2 separate regions of the Homo sapiens genome follow, and region 1 is linked to region 2. Evidence: fine-mapped expression QTL. A gene starts in region 2. The other region holds a variant in brackets. All regions are shown on one strand. Distances are from middle to middle. Region 1 overlaps CFAP77 (cilia and flagella associated protein 77). Region 2 holds the start of CFAP77 (cilia and flagella associated protein 77).

What was found. PIP is the estimated chance that this variant, and not a neighbour inherited with it, causes the effect.
Region 1: its variant is fine-mapped to the expression of CFAP77 in nasal epithelium (TOPMed, PIP above 0.99). The same link has a PIP of 0.9 or more in lung.

The regions. Positions count from the first base shown.
Region 1 is chr9:132,571,657-132,574,557 of GRCh38, reverse strand. CFAP77 (cilia and flagella associated protein 77) reads right to left here. Exons shown (of 6, transcript NM_001282957.2): 6 at 1,239-2,170. The coding sequence ends at 2,048. Among named protein-coding and RNA genes, the nearest start is that of BARHL1, 9.5 kb to the left of the region's middle. The variant G/T (reference allele first, on the strand shown) is at 1,625.
Region 2 is chr9:132,409,078-132,411,978 of GRCh38, reverse strand. CFAP77 (cilia and flagella associated protein 77) reads right to left here and starts at 1,768. Exons shown (of 6, transcript NM_001282957.2): 1 at 1,513-1,768. The coding sequence starts at 1,707. LOC105376304 (a long non-coding RNA gene) reads right to left here and starts at 1,338. Exons shown (of 3, transcript XR_930405.2): 1 at 248-1,338. RefSeq lists a silencer at 611-660.

The sequences.
Region 1 (2,901 bases), 160 kb before region 2:
CAGAAATTGCTGGGCAGAGCTGTGCTTCGCACTCTTTTGCGGTATGGCGTGCTACCGCCTGCTCAGGGCCAGCCCACTCAGACTCTGCCTGCTTGGGAGATTGGAGGGATGAAGGAAAATGAGTATTGAAGACTTTTGGCTTCCACAGCTGGGTAGATGGTGGTCTTACTTATGAGATGGGAAAGACGGAGGGAGAAGTAAGTTTGGCAGAAAAAAAGTCAAGTGTCTGCCTTGGCTATGGTGGTTAACAATGAATGCCAGACACCCAAGGGGAGATGCTGAGTGGGCAGTTGGATAAATGAGTCTGGGGGCTGGGCGTGGTGGCTCATGCCTGTTATTCAAGCACTTTGGGAGGCTGAGGCGGGTGGATCACCTGAAGTCAGGAGTTTGAGACCAGCCTGCCCAACACGGTGAAACCCCATCTCTACTAAAAATACAAAAATTAGCTGGGCATGGTGGCATGCGCCTGTAATCCCAGCACTTCGGGAGGCTGAGGTGGGTGGATCACAAGGTCAGGAGATCGAGACCATCCTGGCTAACATGGTGAAACCCCGTCTCTGCTAAAAATATTTTTTAAAAATTAGCCGGGCGTTGTGGCGGGCACCTGTAGTCCCAGCTACTCAGGAGGCTGAGGCAGGAGAATGGTGTGAACCCAGGAGGTGGAGCTTGCAGTGAGCCGAGATTGCACCACTGCACTCCAGCCTGGGCGGCAGAGCAAGACTCTGTTTAAAAAAAAAAAAAAAAAGAAAGAAATCCTTGGCTGGGCGCGGTGGCTCATGCCTGTAATCCCAGCACTTTGGGAAGCCGAGGGGGGCAGATCATGAGGTCAAGAGATCAAGACCATCCTGGCCAACATGGTGAAACCCCATCTCTACTAAAAATACAAAAATTAGCTGGGTGTGGTGGTGCGCACCTGTAGTCCCAGCAACTCGGGAGGCTGAGGCAGGAGAATCGCTTGAACCCAGGAGGCAGAGGTTGCAGTGAGTTGAGATTGCGCCCCTGCACTCCAGCCTGGCAACAGAGTGAGACTCTGTCTCAAAAACAAACAAGCAAACAAACAAAAAAAACCCTTAGATTAGAAATGATATTTAAAACTTGAAAATTTGCCTCCCTCAAAAAAGGTGTGGCTGGAATGTTTTGGAGGTTAGCTTACCTTGAGAGGTCTCTATGTGGCAGCACCCTCATTTGATGTCTCTAAGGCTGATTTGCTCACTGGTTTTCAAATGGAGACACAAAAGGAGGATGACAAATAGCATTTTTAATTTAAAATAGATCAGCATAAAATTTTCAGAGAGAATCCAAAGAACACACGGAAAGACCGAGTGAGGAAGTGTCCAGGAATTCGGCTGAGAAGCTCAGCAGCCTGTGTTCAGCAGTCTACCCGCTGGCCTGGAAGGCTTTTTCCAGAGTGGGTTGACCTTCCAAAGTCAGTCCTGGGGGAGGAGTCCAACTTGGCCTGCTTGATTGACGGGGCCCCAGCACTGAGGAGGCGGGGGCAGGCTCGAGTAATGAACCATTGGCTCTTCCTGCTGTCAGAGGTCCCAGAGAGATAATACTGCCGTGATGAGACATCAGGCATCCCAAAAAGAGCAATTAAAACTCATGTTTGGAATAGAAAATGAGG[G/T]CTTTCAAAGCACGTCACTGTCATGCTTTCTGCAGCAAATACACAGGTCGTTCTTAACACTTAATGGGCAGAGCCATGGAATCGACCCTTAGCCTGGAGTCTAAAAAATTGTCTTGTAATTTGGGCTTGTCTTGGCAGGTGAGGGCTTGAGAAGAGGCAGGGTGAGCCTGCCCTAGGAGGAGAAGGAGGAGGAGAGGAGGAGGCTCCAGGTAGAGGGTCACTGGGGCTAAGTGGAGACTAATGTTGGCTAACCTAAAAGGGGGGACTTTTACCAAAAACAATTAGCCTAAGACTTGAATCTGAGCTCCTTGAAGCAGAACCTGCATAAAAATGGGGGAATGTCAGGGTTGGGGCAAGATAGGGAGTCCTTCTGGGAATTTTCCACTATGTCAAGATGGCTTCTTGTGGCAGGGGAGGGAGGGGCTAGGGGTGGGTGTAGTTGCCCATCCGCAGGGTCCCCTGGCGCACGGCACACTCTTCCCGGTGGGCTTTTAATGCTCTCTGGCGATCGGCCTCCGTGGGGAACGTATCAAGGTGGCGGCCCACCTGTGGATAGAAGGGAAGAGTGGGTGGGTGAGGGGAGACTTCAGTGTAGCTCATTCCAGTTGCTCCCCTCGCCTGCCCCCTGCTTCAATCTTAGAATAATGATAAAAATAGCTGTAAGAGGGAGGAAGTCACAGCAAGTGCTGTGAGCCTCCTGGTGCTGAGCCACGAGGCAGAGAGCAGGGGCTACCTGGGGGAACTGTTCGTCCTTCTGTCCAGCTCCTTGCTGGGGAAGATACAGGCAGAACAAAAATCACCAGGCCATGACCAGACGACCACGCAATGGGACCTAGTAGCCAGTGTCCTTCATGCACTACTTTTCCACCATTAAAAACCCCAAACAAGCCACCCTCTCCAAGGGGGACCTCCTGACCCTGTCTGCACTCCCTTGCTGGGAATTAGATCACTTCCCTCCTCTCTGGTGGCAGCCACCACAGGAGTCAAGAGCTGAACTTCAATATCACCAGAACCAGAGCTCAAGAATAAATCAGAAAAAAAAAAAAAAAATGCAAGGGAGACAGATTCAAAGAGTGGGAGCCTCTTCAGTTAAGATTTTGTGCAATCGGTATCTCAGCCTGCCCTTTCTTCTCAAGAAATGGTGGTGGGTGAAGACCCCGCCTCGCCTCCTGGTGTCCACTGTGTCTGTTACATCACCTCCAAGTGCTACAAAATCCATCCCATTAACAGCACAACATCCTCCTGCCTCAGCATTTCTCCTTTGGGATAACCTAAGG
Region 2 (2,901 bases):
ATGTATATTATACATATGCATACATGTATATATGATAGATGTAAACGGTATGTTATATGGGTGCATACACAAATGCATATGCATGTATGTGTGTGTGTGTGTGTGTGTGTGTGTGTGTACATATTGCTCAGCGTGGGCACCACACACTAACTCACCATGGAGAATAACTCCATACGCCCTCACTTTACACTTCAGTAGGAAGAAGTTGGCTCACTACTAACTACTTGAACAAAAGCAACGACCTAACCTTAATGCAGGTAGTCAGAGGTGGCGGACGTGATTCTCTCCTTCATCCAAGAATAATGGGCCCCACCTGCCTGTCCTGCCTGTCCACTCAGAGTGGCTCTTCTCACGTAGAAGTAAGTGAAGGACCTTGTTCCACTTTGAGAGGCCTAAGAAAGGAGCCTATTCGATGGAAAGGCACGAGTGTGGGAAGCCAGCCTCCCCCAGGTGCAGCCTGCGCCTAGGCAGTATCCTTCCTCCTCTCAGGACCGAGTTTAGGGAAGGCAAGAGGAGGGAGTCAATGTTTTGCCAGGAGCCAATTAACTCAGTTAATTCTAGCACGGGTTCCCTTTTCCCCAAAACAAAAACAAACCGCCACCACCACCTCTGGGCTCTACTCAGCGCCTGGCGGTCACACAAATAATTGTTGTTGAATCCACGGTTACCACCTGCGCCTTCCACTCCCGCACCTGGGACGCGGGGCGCATTTTTAAAGGCGCACTGCCCTCCAGCGGCGCAAGATAAATTCGCCTCGAGGCTTGCTCCCTGACCCCCAAGCCTCAGCCTGACTTCTCCAGTGGCCCCCGGGAAGGTGTGGCCGCCACAGCAGTGTTGGTTTCCCATCAGCGGGAAGCGAGGCTAAAGGTGGGGAGGAGGGAAGTGTAATGGAAGGGAAAGTGATCCAGCCCGAAACCGCAGCTCCCTCATTCTTGTCTGCGGAGCCTCCTAGGCCAAAGATTATGCTTTTTTTCTCTTAGGGTTGTAATTTGGGTAAGAAATTAGTATGATCGAACGGAAATGAACATTCGACGTGATGCTTCCAGGACAGACACGGAGCCACCGCTGCATAGACGTACCCCAGGCGTGCAGCGGAACCGGAGAGGCGGCCTTTACCCTGGGAGGGCTGGCAGCCACGACTTAGACTGGGCGTGTGCGACCTATCTGTCACCCTGTGGGTTCACTCTGTGGGAAACCACAGCAGCACCCATTGCAGCCTTACCCCATGTCAGGCGCTGTCCCGAGGTCCCGCAGAAATTACCCTATTCAATCTTCCCAATCAGTCCCTTTAGTGGTGCCATTATCATCCCACTGTGAGGATGGGGAAACCGAGGCTGAGAGAGGCGACGCGACCTGCATGGGGGTCCAGGCCTGTCTGGACCAGAGCTGGAGCTTCCCACGCTGCGCTCGGACCCCGGGCCGCGGGGCCAGGGCGCTGCGGGTGGGGACCCCCGGCGGCGCAGGTGCCCGGAGCCGGCGACAGCGAAAGCGCGGTGGGCGTGGGGTGCTCACCTTGACGATGAGAGGGTTCTGAAACATGGAGTCCCGCACGACCCCCAGCCGCTCGTTCTCCATGCCGGAACGGATGTCCGCCACGGTCAGGGGCCGCCGCGGGGGCGGGCAGACCTGGCTGACCGTGCGGCGCACAGGCTGCTGCTGCTTCCTCCATCGCGTGAGGTCCGGGCCGGAGCTCCTGGCCTCTGGCATCCTTGAGGTCGCCGGGGAGCCGGCCCGCGGGCTGGTTTGGGCGCGCTTCCCCACGTCGGGCACAGCCTGGAGCTCCGAAGGGCCTGCCGGGCGGCCCGGGCCGCACCACCGGGATCCTGAGGGGGAAACTCAGATGCCAGGACCCCTCCGGAGCCAGGCGCGCCCCGCTCGCGCCGGCCCCTCATCGCAAAGAGCCCCGGAGCAATGCAGGAGCCCCGCGGGATCCTCAGGGCGTCTCCTGGGCCCCGCGTTGCAGACTGGGAGAGGAAAGAAAACCAAGACCACCCCTGGAGGACGAATGCAACGGCCCGTCTCCTTGGCGACGGGACGCCAACAGAGCCCGGCTCGGCTTGTACTTTTCTTTCAAGAAACTCTTGGTGGCTACCAGTGTGGACTTGTTTGGAGTTTTCCTGAATCGATACAGGAGAACCGAGAATCTCCAGTGGGTTGCGTTCAAAGCGGCGTGGCTCATAGAGGGTCATTTACATTTGTCTTCCAAGTCGAAGACTCCATCCTCTGCTCACCCCCATTCCACTCACAACCCCTCCCCACCTCTGCTCTTTGCGCCACACACACACCTGAGACAGAGCACTAAATGCATTCCAAGCCTGATGCTGATGCTGACCCACTGGGAGGACTCGGGCAAGTCACCCTCTTGGATCCTAAGGGCTTTTTTTCTTTTTTTCCTGTGAGATGGGTGACAAGGAAACGCTAGAGTTGGATTACATCAATGGTTCCCAAATTTAAGCAACAGAATGAAGGGAAATTGAAAAATACAGATTTGGGCTGGGCTTGGCTGCTCACCCATGTAATCCCATTGCTTTGGGAAGCCTAGGAGGGAGGATGGCCTGAGCCCAGGAGTTTGAGACCAGCATGGGCAACATGGTGAGGTCTCATCTCTACCAAAAATTAAAAAAATTACCCAGGTGTGCTGGCACACACCTGTGGTCCCAGCTATGGGGGAGGCTGAGGCAGGAGGATCACTTGAGGAGGTTGAGACTACAATGAGCCGTGTTTCGGCAACTACATTCCAGTCTGGATGACAGAATGAGACCATGTGCCAAAAAAAGAAAAACGAAGATTCACAGGACTCACCCCAGACTCACTAAATCAGAATATCTGGAAATGGCATCTGAGGCTCTCCTTTTTTTTTTTTTTTTAAGAGACGGAGTCTTGCTCTGATAATGACATGAG